Homo sapiens: one gene and its partners. The protein of the gene in region 1 interacts with the protein of each later gene in a biochemical or structural test. Each region holds a gene or a part of one and is shown in the gene's direction. Other genes may lie near its edges. The genes, in order: MAPK14, RB1, MBP and DUSP10.

What was found.
Region 2: of the proteins of MAPK14 (region 1) and RB1, one has a biochemical effect on the other in vitro, tested with the Homo sapiens proteins (3 studies listed by BioGRID and IntAct).
Region 3: of the proteins of MAPK14 (region 1) and MBP, one has a biochemical effect on the other in vitro, tested with the Homo sapiens proteins (4 studies listed by BioGRID).
Region 4: the proteins of MAPK14 (region 1) and DUSP10 form a complex in vitro, tested with the Homo sapiens proteins (2 studies listed by BioGRID, with this or other methods).

What each region holds. Positions count from the first base shown.
Region 1 is NC_000006.12:36,107,802-36,111,761, forward strand, and holds the end of MAPK14 (mitogen-activated protein kinase 14), read left to right. Parts: intron 1-578; coding exon 579-646; 3' UTR 647-3,435; downstream 3,436-3,960. UniProt on the Homo sapiens protein: Serine/threonine kinase which acts as an essential component of the MAP kinase signal transduction pathway.
Region 2 is NC_000013.11:48,474,742-48,481,772, forward strand, and holds part of RB1 (retinoblastoma-associated protein), read left to right. Parts: intron 1-1,708; exon of another isoform or gene 1,709-1,781; intron 1,782-1,959; coding exon 1,960-2,102; intron 2,103-2,613; coding exon 2,614-2,663; intron 2,664-5,237; coding exon of another isoform or gene 5,238-5,256; coding exon 5,257-5,330; 3' UTR 5,331-7,031. UniProt on the Homo sapiens protein: Tumor suppressor that is a key regulator of the G1/S transition of the cell cycle. The hypophosphorylated form binds transcription regulators of the E2F family, preventing transcription of E2F-responsive genes.
Region 3 is NC_000018.10:77,129,773-77,137,554, reverse strand, and holds the start of MBP (Golli-MBP), read left to right. Parts: upstream 1-4,771; 5' UTR 4,772-4,975; exon of another isoform or gene 4,976-7,782. UniProt on the Homo sapiens protein: The classic group of MBP isoforms (isoform 4-isoform 14) are with PLP the most abundant protein components of the myelin membrane in the CNS. They have a role in both its formation and stabilization.
Region 4 is NC_000001.11:221,739,090-221,746,782, reverse strand, and holds the start of DUSP10 (dual specificity protein phosphatase 10), read left to right. Parts: upstream 1-4,693; 5' UTR 4,694-4,802; intron 4,803-6,995; 5' UTR 6,996-7,038; coding exon 7,039-7,693. UniProt on the Homo sapiens protein: Protein phosphatase involved in the inactivation of MAP kinases. Has a specificity for the MAPK11/MAPK12/MAPK13/MAPK14 subfamily. It preferably dephosphorylates p38.

The sequences.
Region 1 (3,960 bases):
GAGATACTTATGTCTGGTCTGATTTTATGCACAGCCCCTCACATAGGAGTTTTGCATGGAGAGTTGAGGTTTTCAGAGTCATTGCATTTACAACATCTCTCTGAGCTTTTACAGTTTTACAATTAGTAGAACTGGGGCAAAGAGAATTTATGTCTTATCAGTTAACTTAGAACTAGTTAGGGACATAGCCAGGAATGGAACCCATGTATCCTGTGTCCAGTCCCATATTCTTTCCACAAAACACAAGTTCAGAACTCTAGTTAAATCCCAAGAGCCAAGACCATCTGTTGCTGTAGCTTGTGAGAGTGCTCTTTCATTCTTGAGCACCTCCGTAGAGAGCTTAAAAGAAGAGGCACTCAGCGATGAAAAACATGAGAAAAAAAATGGTTCTTTTCTATGTCCCTTGAACTTCTGTGTGATAACGTGTTCCAGTAGGCTATTACATACAAGCTGTGAGGTAGCCCATCAAACCACTACCTGGACAGAGAGGAAGGATCTTGAGCTTAGAAGTCAGAGTGCTTGCCAGCAAAGAGAATAGCCTAAACTCTCACATCTTACTTTTCCTTCCCAATTTCTAGGCCTGACCTATGATGAAGTCATCAGCTTTGTGCCACCACCCCTTGACCAAGAAGAGATGGAGTCCTGAGCACCTGGTTTCTGTTCTGTTGATCCCACTTCACTGTGAGGGGAAGGCCTTTTCACGGGAACTCTCCAAATATTATTCAAGTGCCTCTTGTTGCAGAGATTTCCTCCATGGTGGAAGGGGGTGTGCGTGCGTGTGCGTGCGTGTTAGTGTGTGTGCATGTGTGTGTCTGTCTTTGTGGGAGGGTAAGACAATATGAACAAACTATGATCACAGTGACTTTACAGGAGGTTGTGGATGCTCCAGGGCAGCCTCCACCTTGCTCTTCTTTCTGAGAGTTGGCTCAGGCAGACAAGAGCTGCTGTCCTTTTAGGAATATGTTCAATGCAAAGTAAAAAAATATGAATTGTCCCCAATCCCGGTCATGCTTTTGCCACTTTGGCTTCTCCTGTGACCCCACCTTGACGGTGGGGCGTAGACTTGACAACATCCCACAGTGGCACGGAGAGAAGGCCCATACCTTCTGGTTGCTTCAGACCTGACACCGTCCCTCAGTGATACGTACAGCCAAAAAGGACCAACTGGCTTCTGTGCACTAGCCTGTGATTAACTTGCTTAGTATGGTTCTCAGATCTTGACAGTATATTTGAAACTGTAAATATGTTTGTGCCTTAAAAGGAGAGAAGAAAGTGTAGATAGTTAAAAGACTGCAGCTGCTGAAGTTCTGAGCCGGGCAAGTCGAGAGGGCTGTTGGACAGCTGCTTGTGGGCCCGGAGTAATCAGGCAGCCTTCATAGGCGGTCATGTGTGCATGTGAGCACATGCGTATATGTGCGTCTCTCTTTCTCCCTCACCCCCAGGTGTTGCCATTTCTCTGCTTACCCTTCACCTTTGGTGCAGAGGTTTCTTGAATATCTGCCCCAGTAGTCAGAAGCAGGTTCTTGATGTCATGTACTTCCTGTGTACTCTTTATTTCTAGCAGAGTGAGGATGTGTTTTGCACGTCTTGCTATTTGAGCATGCACAGCTGCTTGTCCTGCTCTCTTCAGGAGGCCCTGGTGTCAGGCAGGTTTGCCAGTGAAGACTTCTTGGGTAGTTTAGATCCCATGTCACCTCAGCTGATATTATGGCAAGTGATATCACCTCTCTTCAGCCCCTAGTGCTATTCTGTGTTGAACACAATTGATACTTCAGGTGCTTTTGATGTGAAAATCATGAAAAGAGGAACAGGTGGATGTATAGCATTTTTATTCATGCCATCTGTTTTCAACCAACTATTTTTGAGGAATTATCATGGGAAAAGACCAGGGCTTTTCCCAGGAATATCCCAAACTTCGGAAACAAGTTATTCTCTTCACTCCCAATAACTAATGCTAAGAAATGCTGAAAATCAAAGTAAAAAATTAAAGCCCATAAGGCCAGAAACTCCTTTTGCTGTCTTTCTCTAAATATGATTACTTTAAAATAAAAAAGTAACAAGGTGTCTTTTCCACTCCTATGGAAAAGGGTCTTCTTGGCAGCTTAACATTGACTTCTTGGTTTGGGGAGAAATAAATTTTGTTTCAGAATTTTGTATATTGTAGGAATCCTTTGAGAATGTGATTCCTTTTGATGGGGAGAAAGGGCAAATTATTTTAATATTTTGTATTTTCAACTTTATAAAGATAAAATATCCTCAGGGGTGGAGAAGTGTCGTTTTCATAACTTGCTGAATTTCAGGCATTTTGTTCTACATGAGGACTCATATATTTAAGCCTTTTGTGTAATAAGAAAGTATAAAGTCACTTCCAGTGTTGGCTGTGTGACAGAATCTTGTATTTGGGCCAAGGTGTTTCCATTTCTCAATCAGTGCAGTGATACATGTACTCCAGAGGGACAGGGTGGACCCCCTGAGTCAACTGGAGCAAGAAGGAAGGAGGCAGACTGATGGCGATTCCCTCTCACCCGGGACTCTCCCCCTTTCAAGGAAAGTGAACCTTTAAAGTAAAGGCCTCATCTCCTTTATTGCAGTTCAAATCCTCACCATCCACAGCAAGATGAATTTTATCAGCCATGTTTGGTTGTAAATGCTCGTGTGATTTCCTACAGAAATACTGCTCTGAATATTTTGTAATAAAGGTCTTTGCACATGTGACCACATACGTGTTAGGAGGCTGCATGCTCTGGAAGCCTGGACTCTAAGCTGGAGCTCTTGGAAGAGCTCTTCGGTTTCTGAGCATAATGCTCCCATCTCCTGATTTCTCTGAACAGAAAACAAAAGAGAGAATGAGGGAAATTGCTATTTTATTTGTATTCATGAACTTGGCTGTAATCAGTTATGCCGTATAGGATGTCAGACAATACCACTGGTTAAAATAAAGCCTATTTTTCAAATTTAGTGAGTTTCTCAAGTTTATTATATTTTTCTCTTGTTTTTATTTAATGCACAATATGGCATTATATCAATATCCTTTAAACTGTGACCTGGCATACTTGTCTGACAGATCTTAATACTACTCCTAACATTTAGAAAATGTTGATAAAGCTTCTTAGTTGTACATTTTTTGGTGAAGAGTATCCAGGTCTTTGCTGTGGATGGGTAAAGCAAAGAGCAAATGAACGAAGTATTAAGCATTGGGGCCTGTCTTATCTACACTCGAGTGTAAGAGTGGCCGAAATGACAGGGCTCAGCAGACTGTGGCCTGAGGGCCAAATCTGGCCCACCACCTGTTTGGTGTAGCCTGCTAAGAATGGCTTTTACATTTTTAAATGGTTGGGAAAGAAAAAAAAAGAAGTAGTAGATTTTGTAGCATGTGATGTAAGTAATGTAAAACTTAAATTCCAGTATCCATAAATAAAGTTTTATGAGAACAGAGCCGCACTCATCTGTTTATGTATTGTCTGTGGCTGCTTTTGTGCTACAGTGACAGAGGCAAATAGTTGCAGCAGAGACTATAGGACCTCCAAAATGTCAACCATTTACCATCTGGCCCTTTAGAGAAGTCTGCTGACCCTTGGCCCAGGGCTACAGTTTTCTCATCTATAAAGTGAAGTTCAGGTTTTTTTCATCTTTGACATTTGAGACTATCTATAAGCCATATATTTTTATTATAAAACTGCCAGAGAGAAGGTTTGGTTTGTATATATAGGTGTACATTGTTTGTAAGCTTTTAGGCGAATGTATTTTATGACTCTGTTTTGTCTTAGCTGGCTACGGTCCTTGAAAATATTCTTCAGAATGACTGAATTGCATCACGGGATGAAAGAGCCACGGGGTCTCACAGCTGAGTTCTCAGGGACTTTGCTGATGTGCTTCCTTTCTTGGTGTCCTTGGAATGACACCCAGCAGGTGTCCCAGGGTGGATTGTGGGGCTCAGCCTGTGAGGATATTGAGAGCTGG
Region 2 (7,031 bases), on another chromosome or scaffold:
AGGGAAAGCTTTGCTTTGAAACATTTATTCTAGGCTGCAAATCCACAACCCTAGTTGGCCTTCCATTAAAGTCACTAATTCAGCAGTCCCATATTCAATATGCATTACTGTTAATATGTTGCACCATCTCCATTCCCCTGAGAGCTTATATTTTTAATTTTTAAATTTTTATTTTTAGAGACAGTGTCTCACTCTGTCACCTACTTATTATAACCTCAAACTCCTCGGCCCAAGCAGTCCTCTCACCTTAGCCTCCCAAGTTGCCAGGACTACAGGCATGCACCACCATGTCCAGCTAATTTTTAAATTTTTTGTAGAGACAGGGTTTTCTATGTTGGCCAGATTGGTATTGAACTCCTGGCTTCCACGATACCCCGTCTCAGCCTCCCAAAGAACTGGGATTACAGATGTGAGCCACTGCACCTGGCCAGAGAGCTTATATTCTTATAGGAATGGGAAGACTGCCTATGTTATGTGTTGCTACATAATACATTACCCCCAAACTTAGTGACTTAAAACAAACGCTTATTATCTCCATTTCTGTGGGTCAATAATCTAGGCATGACTTAGCTGGGCCAGAGTTTCTCCAAAGTCTGTGATCAAGGTGTCAGTTGGGCTGGGCCTGCAGTCATCTCAAGGCTCCACTAGAGGAGCATTCACTGGCAGACTTATTCAAATGGCTGTTGGCTGATCCTCGATGGCTATTGGCCCCTCTATTGGTTTCTTGCCCTTGGGCCCCTCCATAGTACTGCTTGCTATTCACAACATGGCAGCTTGCTTTGCCCAGAGCAGGGACTCTGAGGGAGGCAGGGAAATAAAGAGCAAGAGAGAGGTCACAGTCTTATTGTAATCTAATTCTGGAAATGACAGCCCATTACTTTTGGCATATTATTTTGGTTAGAAGCAAGACAACAGTAGATCTAGCCCACACACGAGGGGAGGAGGATCACACAAGGAGGTGAATACCAGGAGGTGGGGTCATTGGGAGCCATCTGAGAGGCTGCCCACCACACTGCCTCAAGTAACTAGGGAGAGGTAAAAGTTTATATGCCAGATGACCAAATATTAAAATGTGTGTTACAAATAGTTCACGATGGGCTCAGCTGTCAGACTTTACAAAGGAGCTATGGGACCTTATAAGGACAGTTGGAACTGGCTAGGTATCACATAGTGGTCTTCAAACATTTTTGCTTGCCATAACCTCTAAAATAATTGGGAAAAAGTTGAATGTACTTCCATATCTTAAAGCTGATAATTTAAAATATTATACATTTAATAGCAGCACGGGATTTAGTTTTTGTTAAATTGTATATGTGCTCCAAATAGATTTACCATCAAAACCTGTTTTGAATTTAATATTGGGAGAATTCGCTAGTTTAATTTTTGGAAAATAAAGTATAATTGGCAAAGCTAATCCTCACTGTTGAATCTATCCGTCAAATCAGATATAATTTCTATCAGAAAGTCTATATGACTTGTCAACATAATACCCATAAAGTGAATCAAAAATTATTATTCATTGAACACATCATCTCTTATCAAATTCTTGTGACCTTCCTTCTGGTTGTATAATAGCCTAAAAAACAAAAAAAGGACAAAAGCAAGTTTCCAGAAAGCTGTTCTGACTTGCCTACTTCTGAAAAGTAGTCCTGTATGGTGGGTTCTGAAAATGAGGAACCAGGACTTGCAGAGTAGGCAGTTGCTGGAGGAAGAATGTGAGCTGCATGGGAAAAGACAGGAGGATTTACAAAGAGTGGGTGTTTAATTGGGGATGGAATTAGGTAGTTATTCTGATTTTTAGATTTTTCATATCTTTTATTTGGTCCAATGAAGCAGAAAATTTAAATGAAGTTATTACCTTTGCCTGATTTTTGACACACCTCAAACTATAACTTGAGGTTGCTAACTATGAAACACTGGCATTTAATGATTTAAAGTAAAGAATTCTGTAATTTGTAGACTTCTGAGAAGTTCCAGAAAATAAATCAGATGGTATGTAACAGCGACCGTGTGCTCAAAAGAAGTGCTGAAGGAAGCAACCCTCCTAAACCACTGAAAAAACTACGCTTTGATATTGAAGGATCAGATGAAGCAGATGGAAGGTAGGAACCAGTTTTGAATGTTTTCCAGTAGCCGAGATGGTCATCTGGGGAATCCAGAGTCTCAGCACTGCTCCTGGCTTATACCAATTTCTTTCATGCCAAGTTTATTTGGAAGTTGTGAGAATGGCTCAAAATAATAGATATGAGTGTAGTGCAAAGTTAAAAACATCTTACAAATTGCATACCAACATTCAGTGAAGATATCTAATAAACCCTGATCTTTTTTACAAAGCTATTGATAAAATTTTGTTATTCTTAACATTAAATTTAAAAATGTTTACTCTTGAAAAATATTAACCACTGTATTTTGTGAGAACCACTGAAAAAATACATAGCATCATAAATTTGTGACATTTATGTTTTAGATGGTTAGTTTTTAAATTTTAAAATTAAAAGCTACTCACTAAAATAATAGCATAAAGTAAGTCATCGAAAGCATCATAGTTACTGGAAATTTGAGTTTTCCATTTATAAATACACATGAAATGTTTTGCATTTTTTTAATCTGCAGTAAACATCTCCCAGGAGAGTCCAAATTTCAGCAGAAACTGGCAGAAATGAGTAAGTACTTTTTTCACCTTGTGTAAATGAAATAAACAATTGTTTACACTGCAAGAAGTCTTTTCGTTATATAAAAGAATGTATAATTTCTTCAGTTGGCAGGTTTGTTTATGCATTTAAAATATAATTCAATCAAGGTTATTTATCTACAAACATTTGTGGATTAAATGTATGATGTAAAATGAAGGTCATTTTTACCCTTTCTATGATCTTTCATGCAGGAAGACTAAGAAGTGAAACATTGCTTGACCACATTCAACACAAATGGCTACAGTTAGAAAATACTTTAGCAGAACTACAAAGAGGAGCTATTTGGGAGTGTTAGATATAGGGAAAAGTTTTATAAACCTAGCATATGTAAACATCATCACCCTTATTTAAGGAATAACCTTTGATTCTACCATTTTTAAACTTTCCTTATTTGCAAATCTTAAAACAATTTCAAACAAAAGTTTCCATTACTGGAAATCAGAATTTTAATAAAGAACACTTATGTCATTTTCCAAGTTATACAGAGTGATATCATGTTAGGGTAAGTGGAATTCTATTCAAAACTACTCTGAGACTAGACAAAAAAAATAATCCAAGGATAGTAGATGGAAAGCACATTAGGAAAGAGATAAATGTTCACTAACTACTATTGGGTTGTCTTAGGTAGTTATGGTAGTGAGTGTAACATTTCCCAGTATCTGCTGCCAGATCCATTGATAGGAAAAGGAACTGGGATTTTGAAAGAAGACAAATATTCAGGAGATAGGTGTTAAAACAATCATTCCTAGGTCACAGGACACACTAATGAGAACAATACCAATTAAAATGAGAGGCTTTCTTTTAATACATCTTTGTAGATACTAACTTTGAAAATAAGATATTTAAAAGGATGCTTTTTTTCTATGTATTTTTTTAAAGTGTAATTAAAACTAAATAACTAAAACAAAATTTTCTAGTTATAAATGAATCTCTTTTTGGATTTTATGTCAACTTACATATTCCTATTTTAACTCTTAAATAGTTGCATCTTTTCCCCTCAGTACATGAAAATAGACAAGAGGCTCATAACCAAAATCAGGCCTTGAAGACATATGGAAACATTTTGGAACCCACAAATATGCACTTAAAAAGGAGCTGAAAGCTGTAAAAACATGTATATTTTCTTAGAGAAGTGTTCAGTTGCTATAGTTAGTACATTTCCCAGTGACACACTTAGCTATGATGGCGAGCTTCCTCTGCCAGGCCAAAGTTCAGGACCTTTGTGCATCTACAAAATTGTGACAAAGCAGGCAGAATTTTAACCCCTGAGGCTAAGGCATTTCTTTAGGATGCTCTTCAGCTTTTCTTAAAGAATTACATTTAGAAAAGATCATCATACAATGCTGGATTGCCCAGAATGGAAGGGCATTCCATTTTTCCAAATGTGCTTCTTTATAAAGAACTCATGCCTACCTCTAAAATCAAGTTAAGAATTTTTAAGAAATTTAATAAGTATCCCGGCTTTGTCTATATTGTAATTCATAATATGCTTTTAACATGGCCATGCCCCGGGTAGGCATGATGGCTTATGTCTGTAATACCAGCACTATGGGAGGGCAAGGTGAGAGGATTGCTTGAGGCCAGGAGTTCAAGACCAGCCTGGGCAACATAGCAAGACCCCATCTTTACAAAAAAATCCAAAAATTAGCCAGGCCTGGTGGCATGTGCCTGTAGTCTTGGCTACTGGAGAGGCTGAGGTGAGAGAATTGCTTGAGCCCAGAAGGTCAAAGCTGTAGTGAGCCATGATCATGCCACTGCACTCCAGCTTGGGCAACAGAGCAAGACCTTGTCTCAAAAAAAAAAAATCCATGCCCAGTTTAAATGAGCTATGATTTGATGTATTTGCAGTACCTGCAAGGCATCTGCAAACATAAGGGAACCTATAGCTTTGTAAAGAATACCACCACTCACTCTGGCAGATTCAGTCTGGGCCAGCCGAGTATTCTAGTCTGCTGAAGTATATGCCAAGCATCAACCACCTCATCTCTAGAATAGTGGCCTACAAAATGGGGCATACCTGAAGTATGCAAAGTCATCTTTTGGGGTACATAAAGTAGAAGTTCTATTTATCTCATTTTAATGTTTGCTTGGGGTATGTGTTTTATAATTTGTACATACATACGTATTTTTGTGGTACAGGCTTGGAAAAAAATTTACTCACAGGGATATATGATTTTTAAAGATTTGGAGACCACTGTTTTTTTGGGGGGTGGGGAGGGAATTTTTTTTTTAATTGATATATCATAGTTATACATATTTTAGGGGTACATGTGATGTTTTGATACGTGTACACAATGTGTAATGATCAAATCAGGGTTATTGGGATATATATCACCTCAAACATTTTTCTTTGCATTGGGAACATTACAATTCTAGCTATTTTGAAATATGCAGTAAATTAACTGTAACTCCCTACGGTACTGTCAAATACTAGAATGAAGACCACTGCTTTTGCAAGGTCCTGAGCGCCATCAGTTTGACATGAGCATAATATATATGGCAGCCACTTGCCAACTTACCCAGTACCATCAATGCTGTTAACAGTTCTTCATCCTTTTTCCAGCTTCTACTCGAACACGAATGCAAAAGCAGAAAATGAATGATAGCATGGATACCTCAAACAAGGAAGAGAAATGAGGATCTCAGGACCTTGGTGGACACTGTGTACACCTCTGGATTCATTGTCTCTCACAGATGTGACTGTATAACTTTCCCAGGTTCTGTTTATGGCCACATTTAATATCTTCAGCTCTTTTTGTGGATATAAAATGTGCAGATGCAATTGTTTGGGTGATTCCTAAGCCACTTGAAATGTTAGTCATTGTTATTTATACAAGATTGAAAATCTTGTGTAAATCCTGCCATTTAAAAAGTTGTAGCAGATTGTTTCCTCTTCCAAAGTAAAATTGCTGTGCTTTATGGATAGTAAGAATGGCCCTAGAGTGGGAGTCCTGATAACCCAGGCCTGTCTGACTACTTTGCCTTCTTTTGTAGCATATAGGTGATGTTTGCTCTTGTTTTTATTAATTTATATGTATATTTTTTTAATTTAACATGAACACCCTTAGAAAATGTGTCCTATCTATCTTCCAAATGCAATTTGATTGACTGCCCATTCACCAAAATTATCCTGAACTCTTCTGCAAAAATGGATATTATTAGAAATTAGAAAAAAATTACTAATTTTACACATTAGATTTTATTTTACTATTGGAATCTGATATACTGTGTGCTTGTTTTATAAAATTTTGCTTTTAATTAAATAAAAGCTGGAAGCAAAGTATAACCATATGATACTATCATACTACTGAAACAGATTTCATACCTCAGAATGTAAAAGAACTTACTGATTATTTTCTTCATCCAACTTATGTTTTTAAATGAGGATTATTGATAGTACTCTTGGTTTTTATACCATTCAGATCACTGAATTTATAAAGTACCCATCTAGTACTTGAAAAAGTAAAGTGTTCTGCCAGATCTTAGGTATAGAGGACCCTAACACAGTATATCCCAAGTGCACTTTCTAATGTTTCTGGGTCCTGAAGAATTAAGATACAAATTAATTTTACTCCATAAACAGACTGTTAATTATAGGAGCCTTAATTTTTTTTTCATAGAGATTTGTCTAATTGCATCTCAAAATTATTCTGCCCTCCTTAATTTGGGAAGGTTTGTGTTTTCTCTGGAATGGTACATGTCTTCCATGTATCTTTTGAACTGGCAATTGTCTATTTATCTTTTATTTTTTTAAGTCAGTATGGTCTAACACTGGCATGTTCAAAGCCACATTATTTCTAGTCCAAAATTACAAGTAATCAAGGGTCATTATGGGTTAGGCATTAATGTTTCTATCTGATTTTGTGCAAAAGCTTCAAATTAAAACAGCTGCATTAGAAAAAGAGGCGCTTCTCCCCTCCCCTACACCTAAAGGTGTATTTAAACTATCTTGTGTGATTAACTTATTTAGAGATGCTGTAACTTAAAATAGGGGATATTTAAGGTAGCTTCAGCTAGCTTTTAGGAAAATCACTTTGTCTAACTCAGAATTATTTTTAAAAAGAAATCTGGTCTTGTTAGAAAACAAAATTTTATTTTGTGCTCATTTAAGTTTCAAACTTACTATTTTGACAGTTATTTTGATAACAATGACACTAGAAAACTTGACTCCATTTCATCATTGTTTCTGCATGAATATCATACAAATCAGTTAGTTTTTAGGTCAAGGGCTTACTATTTCTGGGTCTTTTGCTACTAAGTTCACATTAGAATTAGTGCCAGAATTTTAGGAACTTCAGAGATCGTGTATTGAGATTTCTTAAATAATGCTTCAGATAT
Region 3 (7,782 bases), on another chromosome or scaffold:
AGGCACAGGCAGCAGGGGGTGGGTCTCTCCTGTGGGGTGGCCTGACACTGTCCCCCGGGGTTTGTGAACCTGGAGGGCGCTAGGAGCCTGCAGGTGGGGAGAGGAGGCCAGGTGTTGCCCTGGGCTGTCTGGGCACAGCTTCAGAGAGGAGGTTTGGGTGGTTGGAGCCATGGATGGGAACCAGCAGAGGCCCTGACTTCTGACCCCTGACCTCACTCCCCACAATGGCTCCCAAGGCCTTGCCCTGTGGTCCTCCTCAGTCTCCTCTGCTCACCTTCCTCCCACACCTCATGACTTTTGTGGCCAAGTTGCTTGATTTCCACTTTAACTAAAGGCTTTGTAGAGTGAACGCGCGGACGCCCGTTTTTCCCCCTGGAGGGATTGGCTCTCGTTGCCTGGCCCTGCTGTAACAGAAAGTCACCATCTGGGAGGCTTCACAACAGAAATGTAGCTTCTCAGTCTGGAGGCCAGGAGTATGAAATCCAGGTGTGGCCAGCGCTGTGCTCCTGCCAGGGGCTGCAGGGGAGGGTCCCTCCGTGCCTCTCCCAGCTTCTGCTGCCCCCAGCATCCCTCAGCTCCGGGATGTATGACTCTCACTTCTGCCTCTGTCTCCATGTGGCCTCTTCCCTCTGAGTGTCCCCTCTGCTTACAAGGACATGGCCACCGCACCGGACCCCCCCAAGGACCTCATCTCCACCTGATGACACTAGCAAAGGCTATTTCAAAGCACAGTCACTTTCCCAGGTATTAGGTGGTCAGGACTTCGAGTTCTCTCTTCGGGGACACAGTTCAACCCTTAACAGTGAACTTTCACTGTAGAAACACAGTTTTTCCACCTTTGAGGACAAACTCCAGAGAAAGGAAGCCTGGTACAGGAAGAACGTGGAGGCAGGAGGGGCACCGTGGAGGCAGGTCTGGGTCAGAAGTGGGAGGTCCCCAAAGCCAGGGCCAAGCCCTCCTGGTTCCCACTCACCCTGCCTCTGAGCCCCTCCCTCCAGGGCCCGTCTCCCTCCCTCAGAGCTGGCTGCTGACCCCACCCCTGCAACAGGGCCGCTGTCTCCTCACAGCCTTTCCTGGCTCCCTCTGGGGTCTGCCATGGCTCCCATGCACATTCACACTGTGCATGCTCTGGACTTCCCGGCAACCCTCCCGTCCTCTCGGGCTGCTTCCTGGGGCTGGTTATTAAGATGTCACATTTAATCCCCTTGTTATAGGAGCATCAAATGTAGCACAAAGTCCAGCACACACACAACCCCCACCCACCCCACAGACCTGGCTAAGGCTCTCCTATCCCTCACTCTATTCCTGCCCAGTCCAGCTCCTTCCCAGCTCCTGGGGAGGCTGGCACTCATTCCACCACCCCCCGCAGGGAACTCTGTTAACTAGATTGGAAGCTGAGTATTCATTCCTTTTTTTCCCTATGTCTTAATCTAACCCTCTATTAAGGACTGCACATCTATCCCCCCAAAATTCATATGTCAAAGCCGCAACCCCCAGGGAATGGTATTTGGACATGGGGTCTTTGAAAGATAGTTCGGCTTAGATTGAATCCGTGAGGGTGGCCTCACAATGGGATTAGTGTCTTTATAAGAAAAAGAGGCCACAGCCCAGTCTCCTCCCCTTCCTCTTTCTCTCCCTCCACCACCCGACACACATAGAGAAGGTGCTGTTTATGAATCAAGAAGCAAGCTCTCGCCCAACGCCAAGTCCGCCAGCACCTGCATCTTGGACTTCCAGGCTCCAGAGCTGGCATAACATCTGTTTTTAAGCCATCCAGTCTGTGGTATTTTGTTATAGCAGCTGAGCTGACTAATACACCCTCACGTGGGAAGTAAGCCCCACTGGCGAGGTTGTGAATATATATTGCAACAGAGCGAATAGATGTAACGTCTGAAGAGCCAGCCCAGAATTCCTCTGAAGTACCACTTGTTTGGAAACAACTGTGATCAACCCCTGGATGAATGAGGGAGACCTCCACACCTGGGTATCCACCGATGCCTGAGCTGCAGAAAGAGAGTGTTCAGCCCTGATATGAGGATGACTATTACCTCCACACTGCAGATGAAGAGACTGAGGCTCAGAGAGGTTTAGACCAGGTCTGAAAATCATATTCAGTCCTGGCCGGGCGTGGTGGCTCAGGCCTGTAATCCCAGGACTTTGGGAGACCCAGGCAGGTGGATCACCTGAGGTCAGCGGTTCGAGAACAGCCTGGCCAACGTGGTGAAACCCCATCTCTACTAAAAATACAAAAATTAGCTGGGCATGGTAGCGGTTGCCTATAATCCCAGCTACTCGGGAGGCTGAGGCAGGAGAATTGCCTGAACCTGGGAGGCGGAGGTTGCAGTGAGCTGAGATTGCACCATTGCACTCCAGCCTGGGCCACAGAGCAAGACTCCATCTAAAAAAAAAAAAGAAAGAAAAAAAAAAGTTCAGTCCTTTCCTAAGCAAAACATCATAACAAAGACAAATCTGTTGATGAGGAAACTAAAGAAAACTCAAAGTTCGTGCAGTCTGAGGTCTGTTGGAAACTATTTAGATTCATTTACTTCCTTTAGCTTGGGTAATTTGGAGTTTAATTCAGCTTAACAAAAATTTATTGAGTGTATTTCATGCACAAAACATTTTGCTATTTGCTGCCATATGAGATGATGGATAGGTCAAACTTTCTGCTCTCCGGTACCTTGTGAAAGATGGGGGTAACTGCAATGTGATTTTCTTAGAAATGTCAAAGACACAATGAGGCTTTGATGGGTTACTTGTCAAAAGATGCCTTTCAATTTTATTCAGCACAACGAATCTCTGTCACTTTGCTGAGGGCTACATGGACATCTTCATGTGAAAGTTTGTCTCTCGACAGTGAAATGCCAGCCTCTGTTTCTTCCATCCACTGTCCTCAACCTGGGGTCCTTTTTCTAACCGGGAGGGCATGAAAGCCCCCAAGATAAGACCAGTTGATCCAAATGTGAATCCACTGTTTTATTAAATAGTATTATCTACATGTTTTCTTTGAAGAATCCATGACTTTTCTAAACTGCCTGGCTGCCCATCTGTGTGGACACTCTATCCCAACAAAATATGCACGGTGAAATTTCATAAATACTTTAAAAAGACTTTTAACTGGAACTTGTGGAGCCTGACATTTGTAGGGCTGACTGTTGGCATATGTAGTGTTTCAGGAAACCACTGTAACACCAGCAGAAGGAGCACCAAACAGAAGGCCGCGTGTGCAGCTGTCACTGTGGCCTGAGGGACGCTCCAGAGCCCAGCACACAGGGACATCTGCAGGCAGGAAGGTGGCCCCGCCCTGTGGAGTCACTGAGATAAAGCCAAGAGATATTTTGGGGAGGAAAAGCTGTTTCTGATGCTAAAGCAGGTATCTAAAATGGGACCCATTTTAGTGTTCCAGCTTCCCCAGCCTGAGCTTTGAGTGACTTGAGCTGGGACCTGGGTGCACCCGGGTTCATTGTCACCACCCGTGCTCCTAGGGCAGCTGTCCAGCCTCCCACGCCCACTCCGCTCATCCTTGACTTAAAGTGAGGTTGTGGGGCAGAAAAATTGGAGAAACACACTATCTTTGGCACCCTTTTCCCTCCTCACCTTCAGCCTCAAAGTCTCAGAACCCTCCTGCCCCCTCCACTTGAAAATCTCTCCTGAGGAAACGACCAGACTGAATGCTTTTGCGTCGTTGTGGAAGTATTTCTCTTCCAGTTGCCAGCATTTGAAGACAGTTGCTAAATCCTCCGGGGCTTTGGGGGAGGCTGGTTTTAGGCCGAAACCCCGACCCCGTGCTGAAGTCTGAGTCCCGCCTCCCAGCGCGGGCCGGGACAGCGCTCACCCCTCTCCCTCACTTCCTAACAAACTGTGTGGGTCCCAGGCTGCTCCAGGTCCCCTGGAAGCTCCAGATCCAGATCCCTGACTGGGGGTGTAGGTCAGGAGGAACGCGGGGCCTCATTCTGGGACTCCCCCAACCTCCTCCTCTTCCACCATCAGGAGGCTGAGAATCCAGAGAAAGATCTCTGACCACTAAATCTGTGTGCAGGTGAGTCACGGCTAAACAGCAGGCTTTTTCTTTTTAACAAGACAGCGACGAAGACCACGATGTCTCTGGGCTGCAGGACCAGGCTGCTTCCTCGCACCTGCGCGTGTTTTGCTGTCTTTTCCGCGCACGCTTCCTGCGCCGGTCCTGCAGGAGAAGGTGCGCCCCTAGCTCCCAGCTCCCAGCTCCCAGCTCCCAGAGGAGCACCTGCCAGCCGGACATGGGCCTGGCCTGGGCTCCAGGGGAGGGAGGGAGTGCCTTGGGAGGACCTGCCGGCTCCTTTCGCCTCCAGGCCGGGCTGACTCTCCTCCTGCAGGGCCGGGGCTGCGCCAAGTCTATCGGCAGTTTCTGGGGTTTCCAGCCCCTGAGGACGCGGGGAGATGCGGCCTGGCACCCCTCCCGCGAGGTCGAGGTCGGGGTCGGGGTGGGTTCGGAGGCCAAGCCTCCGAACGGGAAGGGTCGACGGGCCGCAGTTCGGAGCCCAGTTCGGCAGCGGGCGAGGCTCCAGGCCGCCCCTCCGAGGTCTGACCCTGCGCGTGGGCCCCGTGCGCCCCCCAAGTTCCGCGTGGGCAGAGCGGGCCCGGGGTCCTCCGAGCTCCCGGGGCGGCGCCGGCGGCCGCGTCCAGGTGGGGCGGGCCCGGCGGGATCGGCCTGTGTTTACCTGGCTCGCAGGAAGCCCGGGGAGGCGGGGCCGGGGAGCTGGGTGCGCGCCCGTCCCTCGGAGCCGCCGCCGTCAGTCACCGCCGCCGCGCGCCAGAGAGAAGCAGCCTCCGGCCCCGGCGGCCCCTGTCTCCCGACCCCGGAAGGCGAAGCAGGCTGCCCGGGGACCCCGCGCGTGGGCGCTTGAAGCCGAGACCAGCCTGCCCGGGCCTGGGCAGGCGGAGCAGGGCCTTGGACCCCGCGGCGCCCCTCGGCCTCGGAGCAACGAGCGCAGCGCCGGTGGGTGACCCTCGGGGACGGGCGGGCTGCTCTGCCGCCTTTGTCTCTGTGCCCCTCCGAGTGGGGACCGCGGAGACCTGGGCGGGACCCCGGACCGGAGCCCCGCGGGAGCCGGGGGCGCAAGATCGGGGACAGGAGCTATCCCGACGCCCGGACTCCGGGTCCCTTTCTTGGCTGGGGACGCGCAGGGAGAACCTAGGCAGCGGAGCAGGTGGCCGAGCAGGTAGCAGCCGGCGGCCTCCCTGACCCGAACCCAAGTCGCCGCCCCCGATCCCCATTGCGCGGGGGCTGGGCGCGGGTGTAGACGCGGGTTTACAGCGCCGGGGCCCGACCCTGACAGGTGTCCAGGGGTGGACTCCAGCCAGGCCCGGCGGTCCCAGGGTCGCTGAAACCGCTCGGCCTCGGGCCGTGGGGCTGAGGGGAGGAGTCTAGGGTGGGAGGGGACGGCGGTCAAAAGCGGCCACTCTGGGCGGGTGTGGAGAGGGTGCTGGCTGCCAGGGCGGGCTGGGGGGTCCTCCCGGCTCGCGGCGCCTGCTAATCACACCCCGGGGGCCCCGCGCGCGATCGCGCTCCTGCCCCTGCCCCCGGGGCGAAGCGCAGTCTCCCTCTGAGCTCCAGGGGCGGCCAGGAGAGCCCGGGTCCGGGCTTCCGCCTTCGCAGGGCCTGTCTCGGGCTCTTCGGCCGGGCCCGTCGCTGCGCCCACCTGGGCCCACGTGCGCCGCCCGCAGCCGCCCGCCGGCCCGCCCGGGTCTTCCCGGCAGTCCCCTCCTGGGCCCCACTGCCTGTCCTGGGCCGGGTGCGTCCGTTTTCCGTGGCCCCCGAGGCCGGGGTGTGTGACCTGCGGTCATTTGCCGCCACACTAGATTTTCCGGGGTGCTGGGGGCAGCGCCTTGTGTCCTTTCGCGTCCACCTGAGCCCCCCCGTTTTGGAAGGTGGAGTGGGGCTTGGGAAAAGGTTCAAGCGTCTTTGGGGACCCCCGTGCGACTCTGGCTGGAAACAGGCGAGCTCTGGTTCCTTGTTCCGTTTTCCAATTGCAACAACGTGAGAATCAACAAGTGCTCGGTTTCTCTGCGCGTGGGTGAGGGGCGCGTGGGCTCGCTGGGTGCTGGGGTGGGGAGGGGGCGTGGACTTCGTTCCGGGGAGGCCTCTGCCTCGTCTGACCACAGAACGCCCCGCCTGGAAAGAGAGTTTTTCAGAGGAAGGAAACGTCAGGGAACTCCAGTGTGTGTTTTGGACATTTTATCTGGCGAAGCTCCGGGGGACAGTTTAAGGACGGTCACCCTCAAGTCAGGGGACCGTATGGATTGAGCAGGTCCCGCACTGAGCTCCCTGGCGGCCACCTCCAGTGATGAGCACCTCCTTAGCGGTTGGGGCCGGGGCTGTGGTCACGGCTGAGAGCCTGGAACCCAGCCGCCCTTCAGTGGAGGAAGGCCAGGGGAAGGGTACCGCGGCAGAGGGGGTGTGTGTGTGTGTGTGTGTGTGTGTGTGTGTGTGCGCGTGCGTGCGCGCGTGTGTGTGTTTTGTTTTTTGAGGTTTTGTTTTTTTTTTTTTTTTGTGGGAAAAACAGAAATCTGAGGGAAAAGAACACAGTTAAAAATTGCTGTAAATGCTGGAGTAACTCCCAGGGAGTTAACTGTTCTGAAACAACCACTTCTACTAACTCCGGGTTAAACAAAGCTATTTTGTTCAAATCCTCTTTGAAAATCCTCCAGAAGTATCACAGTTCTGCCCAAAGATAAGAAAGTGTAAGACACGTCGCTTGTTTTACACCTGGTAGCTCATGGCTCCTCCATGATTTAAAACGTCGGGTTTGAGTTTGGTCAGTGGTGGTCCTAGCTGTGTGCGCTGATTAAAGGTAGCCACGAAACGCTGGGGAAAAAAGAAAAAAAAAAAACAAGAGACCAAACTTTCTTGTGATGTTTCTATTTCTGCCTGAATTTGTAAATGTTAATTGTAAGTTATTTTGTTTGACTTTTAATCCTCCTCCAAGTTCTTTAAAAATATGACATGCTTAAGATGAGCAGCTGCCTCTGTGCCTTTTCTGTCGCCTGGGAGTGTTTATCGACTGCTTGCACGTTGCCAGACTCTCTTTTGAGAGCGGTTTGTCACCTCGGATAACAGTCGGGACGGCCCTAGGATGCCCTCACTGGATGTCACCATCCTATTCATATCTTCATTTTTTACTGTTGAGGAAACAAGGCCCAGAGAGGTTAAGTTACTCTAAGGGCACACAAGAAGAGGCGGGATTCCATCCGGGGAGTCTGCACCAGCGCCTGACTGCTGCTCTGCACCGCCGTGGTGAGAAGGATGCCTTGCAAAGGTGCTCCTCGTTCCTCCTTTTAAAATTCCACCCCAATGATGAGTGAGTGTACCCAGAGATGTCCCACACAGGTTTCCTTTCAAGAATGATTTCACCATAAGGCTACTGTCATCCGTCTTTGTTCATCATCTTCTCCTTAGCTTTCTTAGTTGTCAATAAAAAAGAAAAGAAAATATTCTAATTACTCCTTTTCTTTTTCTTTTTTTTTTTTTTGACAGAGTCTTGCTCTGTCACCCAGGCTGGAGTGCAGTGGTGCAATCTCGGCTCACTGCAACCTCCACCTTCTGGATCCAAAACAGTCTCCTGCCTCAGCCTCCCCAGTAGCTGGGACTATAGGGGCGCACCACCACACCTGGCTGATTTTTGCGTTTTTTTGTTTGTTTTTGTTTTTTAGTAAAGATGGGGCCTCACCATGTTGGCCAGGCTGGTCTCAAACTCCTGACCTCAAGTGATCCACCCACCTCGGCCTCCCAAAGTGCTGGGATTA
Region 4 (7,693 bases), on another chromosome or scaffold:
ATAGATAGTGGGACAAGCACATGGCCCTGCCTCTGTTTCCATCATTACAGTAGCCACTGTCTTAGTCCAGTTGTGCCGCTATAACAAAATACCTGAGACTGGGGAAGTTGTAAGGAACAGAAATTTATTGCTCACATGAGTTCTGGAGGCTGGGAAGTCCAAGATCAAGGTGCCATCTGCAGGTTCACTGCCTGGTGAGGGTCCAATCTCTGATTTCAAGATAGCACCTTGTTGCTGTGTCCCCACAGGGGAATGGAAGAAAACTAACTCACTCCCTGAAGCCCTTTTGTAATGGCCCTAATCCCTTCCATGAGGCCTCTGCCCTCATGACTTAACCACCTCCAAAAGGCCTCATCTCTTAATAGTGTCACACTGGTGATTAAGTTTCAACATGTATTTTGGGGGAACATTCAAACCATAGCAGCTCCTTCCTTCAGGGAACACTTCTTATCAGCCCTTCCCTAGGCCTGGAGAGTGTTGCTGGATGTTTTGCCAGGCTGGTCTCAATGACCTCAAACACTTACCATGCCACTTTCCTATTCCTCAGCTTATTCCCCACTCCTTCTGGTATAATATCATCTTTATCCTGGATGATTTTTAAGTTTTCTCCAAGCCATTCTCTGCCTTAATTCTAGTACCTCCAGAAATCTATCTTGACCTTGAGGATTATTTTGAAGGCCCCACCTTCTGCCATTACCCCACACACTTAACCATTTAAGTGCACAAAAAAGAAGTAATTTAATTAATACATTTGCTAAATACTATCCATATTATATCTTATATGTTGGCCTAAGTTATTGTCATCTTTTGACTTTAATACATAGTACTTCAGCTGAAACAGTCAATATTTTTCTTATGATGTTTGTGGGAACAAAGATATGCTCAATACAATCATGTTACAACATCCAGACTGAATGAAGATGCTTCACTCTTTCTTTGGGACTGAAACTAACATTAACGCTCTGCTGCTGGTTATTGATATACAGATCAGATTTGTAGCCATTGGCTGACTAGCATTACGAATTTAAGTCTCAGGGCATTATATTTCAGTGTAGTATTTTCACATTTATCGCTCAAAAACAGGAATAAAATCACTTCTTCTTGTCCAAAAGATGTTCTGAAGAGTAGTGAATGGAAAAAAATTCCATCTATAATCTGATTTTTTTCACCAGTCTTATGACTTGAATATAAACTTAGAGATGCCTAACTTAAAAAATAACTACAACTTTGCTTATATTCATAATCTGGTAATTATTCCACATTTCAGGCTTGATATATGATAAGGAATTTTGCCATCTTTCCCAATGTTTCAGCCTGGATGGCTTAGATTCTTAGTCAACTAAATTATAATAATCTACTACTTTGAAACTATAATAAAACAATCATCTCATTACAAGAGTTACATTTCTTCTTGAAATTACTTTTCCATTTTGGGCCTTGTGGGAAAAGCTGTTAAGAACTCTTCTGCAATTGTATAAATCTATACTTTGGGCTTAGATGTTGAGGCATTAGAAATGAATTCATCATTTATAGATCATATATACCTTTAAAGATAGGCACCTTATTTCCTAAAGCAAGTAAATTAATTTTTTTTTCCACTGAATGCCTTTTATCAGCAGGGGATCTTTTTTCCCCCCTGAGCGCTTGAATGAGTTCCCTTTTTCTTCTGAGTTGGGGTATTACCATTCTATGGATAAATGAAGACAGAGACTGGATGAACAGATATAACAGATAGAGTCAGAATCAGAACTTAGAACTCTCAAACTCTGAGTTAATGAAAAATTTTCCCATAATTGTCTATGTTTAGGGAAAGGTAAGCTTTCAGCCTTCCAGCTCCAGATAGATCAAGGGTAGAACCTCTGGGAAGTTCTTTTCTGATTTGTATAGAAATTACCCAGAACCCAAGTTTCCTGACCATAACCTGTTGATCTTCAAACATTTAAGAACCAAATGGTGTGCCCTAAGCACTCTGCTATTATCAGGAGGGTGAATTGACGTGTGTGTTGGTGTGTGGATGGAGAGAGGTGTAAACCAAAAATAAAATTCTAAGCACCCCCCACGCCCCACCCCCTGCCCACCCCGCCTTCCCAGGCAACCCTCTGAACGGACTAATTTGTCAACCAGGGCTCTTGTAAAATTTATCCTGAAAGACTGGTTCAGGCCATGAAGGGATGTGAGGGTGGGACGTGCCCCATTCATTATATATCAACCAACGGACTAATTTCTCAACCCAGGCTCCTGTAAAATTTATCCTGAAAGACTGGTTCAGGCCATGAGGGGAAGTGAGGGTGGGATGAGCCCTGTTATATATCAACATGGAGTTCAAGTCTGATAAGAAACATTTTACAACCTATTGTCTCTGAACCTGCTGCCTGGAGACTTCATCTGCATAATAAAACTTTGGTCCCCACAAGCTCTTATCTTAACCCATACGTTCCTTTCTTTGATCTCAGGTCTTTAGACAAACTCAACCAATTGTCAACCAGAAAATGTTTAAATTTACCTATAGCCTGAAAGCCCACCCGCTCCTTAGAGTTGTCCAGCCTTTTTGGACCAAACCAATGTATTTCTTAAATGTATTTGATTGATGTCTCATGCCTCCCTAAAATGTATAAAACCAAGCTGGACCCCAACCACCTTGGGCACGTGCTCAGGACCTCCTGAGGGCTGTGTCACAGGCCATGGTCACTCATATTTGGCTCAGAATAAATCTCTTCAAATATTTTACAGAGTTTGACTATTTTCGACAACAGACGTTACACAAAATCCTCTCCTATGTAAGACTATCGGATGTGTACGTGATGCCCGTCGTAACACTGGTGTGAAAAGCTGGACTGGGGGGTATGTGCCTGCATGTAAGTGGAGGTGCCCAAGGGGATTTCTCTTCACAGCTCATTGAGCATAGCTGACTTGCTAGCTATGGTCTGACACCTCCTGATTTCAGATCTGCCCTGAAAACAATTACATGAATATGCCCCTGCTACTCAGTATACTACTAGGCTTGGAGTCTGAAGTAGACCTCCAAACCCCATCCAATCAGGTAAGGGAGAAAAACGATAGCCCAACATTCCCTAGTGCTCATAATGTATTATTCCATTATTTCACTTTTTATCCCTTCTCTCACAGATAAGAAAAGAAAAAGCTCTACTTCTTTAGGGTTCTTGGACGTAGACTCTCCACAGTTCATCTGGGGTTGTTCATCTCCACTTCTTTTTGTATCCCAGGGCAACTTTCCTGCAGTTTCCCTAATGAGAATATTTTCCGGACTAGGCAAGGGGCGGCTTGCCCCGCCCCCTACTCTTCTCCCTGATCAGGAGCTGCGGCCAGCTACCTGGCGCCGGCCAAAGTCAGGGGAGCGGGGAGAGGCGGCGTCACCTCCTCCACGCTCCTCCGGCCCCATTCAATCTAGCTATTTGCACTCGGCTCTGGCTCTTTTCCGCCAGCTGCGGCTGTTCCAGAAGCGCCGGGCTGCCGGTCCTGGCCTCGGCAGGGGCCGTGCGGGACCGAGGGGTGGCGGCCGAGGCATGTGGGGCGGGTGGGTTGCGCGCTGCTGGCACGGCGCGGGGACCCAGCGCGCCAGGCGGGAAAGGGGGGCGGCGGCGGGCGGGGACCCAGACCCGGAGGGGCAGCGGGCGCGTAGCGGGCCCCAGGACGCCCGGCCAGGGGATTGGCCTCTGCACCGCTGCTCAGGGCGCGTCCCTTGCCGCCTCTGGCGTCGACTCAAGCCTCCTCCTCCGAGCAGCCCTCAGTGGCGCCGCCTTAGTGCTCTGGGTCGAGCCCCGGGAGGGTTAGCCTGGGGACGGCAGGGGCGTGACCGTGGCGCGGAAGTAGGTGAGCAGCAGGGCGGCGCGCGGCGGTCAGGCCGGGACAGCCAGAGGGGCAGCGACATCTGCGGGCGGGCGGGCGGGAGGCGGACGCTTCCCGGGCGGAGCAGGGCCCTCCGGAGGACGCAGGCCGCGTCGAGGCTGAAGGGCCTCCCTGTCCGGGACGGTCAGCTGCCAAGTTCGGGCCCTTAGCGCGTGGCCCCGGGCCGCGGCTCGGAGCGGAAGCGTCGCCCCTGGCTGCGCGCTCATGCTGGTCCTAGCGCAGAAGACCCGGCGAGGTCCGCGAATTTTGGCTTAGCGTTTGTCAAGTCACCTCGAGCGACTCGGAGAGAACCCGGCTTTCCCACTAGGGACGGTGATCGCAGTCTCTTTCCTTTAGAAAGTTACTCCGATACTTTTGATCATCTGTCCATAGTAAGGAGGAAAAATAGCGTGGTTTGTCCCCGGGTGAGGGAGTGTTGGAGGATCCCGTCCAGTGGGAAGAGCCAGTTTTAGCGGAGCAGCGCGTCCAGCCCGCTGACACTTCAGCCTGGTAAAGGGTTAACTGCATCCTGCCGGTTCGGTTTACATGTAAATAGAGAGCAGCTGCTCCGCGCGGCCCCGGCTGGCTCTTTTAAGTTTTTGATTGGTTGCCAATGACATCACCGCCCGTGTTTTAACACCGAGGACCCAGAGCAGCTTCGGATAAACCCTCCTTAAAGAGATGAGGCCACGCCTTCTTACCCGCCCCCTAGGCTGCCCATTGGTCGCGGGGCTCTGTGAGGTAGCGGTCGGCTTTCTCCGGATTCTTATTGGCCCAACCCGCCGTCGGTCGGCGGCGAGTCCGCCCCCTCAGAACCTTACATTTACAGTGTAGCAAAAGAGAAAGTAACTATGTTGCTGCTGGAGATCAATGAAGCCGAGTGAATGGGGGCTGAATGTGCGAGTCCATAGCTGAAGAGGAGCGCCAGATGGTGGAGGAATACACTTATTTATGAAGTAAGTGGAAGTCACCGCGACTACTCCTGAGAGCCCGGGACTGGAGGTGGAGGATTGTAAGGCGGTGCTTGTGTGAGTGTGAGTGTGTGTGTTTGTGTGTGTGTATCTGTGTGTGTGTGAGAGAGAGACAGAGACAGAAAGATAGAGATGCGATGCTGACGGAGGAGCTACAGCAGGTAGGGTTATAAGGTTCCGGCCGTTGGCTCCTGCTACCCTGTGCGTTTACTCCCTGCAGTCTACTTGGATTTGGGGCGAAGAAAAAATGAGGTTTGTTGGGATGCTTTGCGGCAGTTTTAAATGCTCGGGGCTCATTAGTGCGCTGTGTGCCGAGGAGTGAAGCGGGGGGCGGGGGGATGTTAAGTGCTCCAGGAATGGGGAAGAAGCATTCTCTAACCACTTAATTTTCTCTCCAGCTCTTGCCTAGTGGTGGAAGGGAGAGGGGATAGCTCAGTATTTCTCTGGGAGATTTTCTGGGCCAGACTGGATGGTTTCACGGGCAGTATGTACGCCCGACCCTCTGCTGCAGGGATGCAGGTCTCTCTATACACTCCGTGTGTGTGTGTGTGAGCCTTGAACTCTGTGTGGAGGTGGGGGTCCCAGCGCGTGTCTCTGTGAACACGCTTATGCGTCCCTCTCAGAAGAAATGGTATGTTGATCCTGGACGTGTCCTACCAGGTAACACAATAGCAAAGACTTTCACCGCTTGGTCCAACCGGGAAACAGTTATAGCTTCTGGAATAGAACTCGCTCTTCAGAAAAAATACTACGCAAGGGAAGGGGGGTTGACTCCTTCGCTCCCATCCAAAGGTGGGTGAGAGAAACCCGAGTCGTTGGAGATCTGCCGACGTGATGGGTGCGTGCCCCGTGTGCGCGCGTGAGTGTGGATTCCGCCTGTGACACTTTGGTTCTGTGTCAGAGAATGGTGACGGTCGTGTGTAGACGGATGAGAATGGTGACGGTCGTGTGTAGACGGATGATAGATGGCATTTTTCCTGATAGCTCTTAAAGTTCGTTTAGGTGAGCGTCTCTTGGCGTGGGGTTTGGCGTCTTTGCTATGTGCATGTCTAATAGAAGAAGAAGAGTTAGCAAGCCTGAGTTGTAGAGTGCCCCTGTGCCTACAGGAGGAAGGAGCTGTCTTTTTGCAGACACTCTGAAATCAGAGATAGATCCGGTGGGCAACAATTCACTGTCCCTTTCAACGAGTACAGGCTAATTGGGAGGTCCTCTTTACGGAATCAGTACTCTTGAAGGGGGGATATCTGTATGGGATTGAAACCTTATACAACGTGGCTGCCTCCCATTGAGAGAAGCTCTAGGATGCACAGTCTGTGCCAGCCAGGGAGATGAAGAGGGGAGGAGAGCCCAAGTTGTCCTTTCCAGGCAGGAATGAGGGCGGGGGCAGGTGAGAGAGCAAAGGGTGAGGGATTTGCCGGGGCTGGGGTTTCCAGGTTTCCAGATCTGGCTCCATGGCTTGAGATTTCGTTTTAGGACACCAGTTAGTAGTGAAAAGGGGAAATGCAGATTAATTTATAAGAGGCCAAAAGACAACATGTGAGGTTTTAGTATGACTATGTTGTGCTTTTCAAAGGACCCCAATAGAGAATGGAAGGCAAGAATAGCTCCAAGTTAAAGAGATTCACTTAAGGGGATTTGCAGAAAGTTGACATCCACCCTGATGTATATTTAGCTGCTGTACCTTTCTGTGAACCATGCCAGTGCTCTTGGTTACCCCTTTGCCTTTGCAGCGAGTGAGGGAATTAAATGGCAAGCATGCAAGGGTGGACAAATGGGTCTTTCTCAGATGTTTGCAGTGTACTTCTGCCCGAGAGCTGAGGTTCAGAATAGATGCCTCTTAAGAGCCTCCCTTCTGTCTTCAGCTTTTCTAATTATTTGTGCTTATACCTTCTCTACAGCTGAACTTTTATGTAGGTCCAGGAAAGGTTGTTCATTAACATTTACAACATTACATCCAAATTTAACCTTAGACTTAGCAACCAAATTGATTGGAGCCCTCAGGTTTGCATCCTCTTTGAATACATAAAAATGAATTTCAAGTTTTGATAATGGTATGATAAAGGGCAATTAGGACGACTTTGCTCAGAGGGATGCAAAGGTCTTTCCCAGGGATTGGATGAGACTGCCTTTTGTGTCACGTGACTTTATTCTTTCTTTCCCCCTTCCCCTTCTTTACAGACTGTCTTGAGTTCTTCTTGAATTGCCAGTTTTCAGCCTCCTCATGCCTCCGTCTCCTTTAGACGACAGGGTAGTAGTGGCACTATCTAGGCCCGTCCGACCTCAGGATCTCAACCTTTGTTTAGACTCTAGTTACCTTGGCTCTGCCAACCCAGGCAGTAACAGCCACCCTCCTGTCATCGCCACCACCGTTGTGTCCCTCAAGGCTGCGAATCTGACGTATATGCCCTCATCCAGCGGCTCTGCCCGCTCGCTGAATTGTGGATGCAGCAGTGCCAGCTGCTGCACTGTGGCAACCTACGACAAGGACAATCAGGCCCAAACCCAAGCCATTGCCGCTGGCACCACCACCACTGCCATCGGAACCTCTACCACCTGCCCTGCTAACCAGATGGTCAACAATAATGAGAATACAGGCTCTCTAAGTCCATCAAGTGGGGTGGGCAGCCCTGTGTCAGGGACCCCCAAGCAGCTAGCCAGCATCAAAATAATCTACCCCAATGACTTGGCAAAGAAGATGACCAAATGCAGCAAGAGTCACCTGCCGAGTCAGGGCCCTGTCATCATTGACTGCAGGCCCTTCATGGAGTACAACAAGAGTCACATCCAAGGAGCTGTCCACATTAACTGTGCCGATAAGATCAGCCGGCGGAGACTGCAGCAGGGCAAGATCACTGTCCTAGACTTGATTTCCTGTA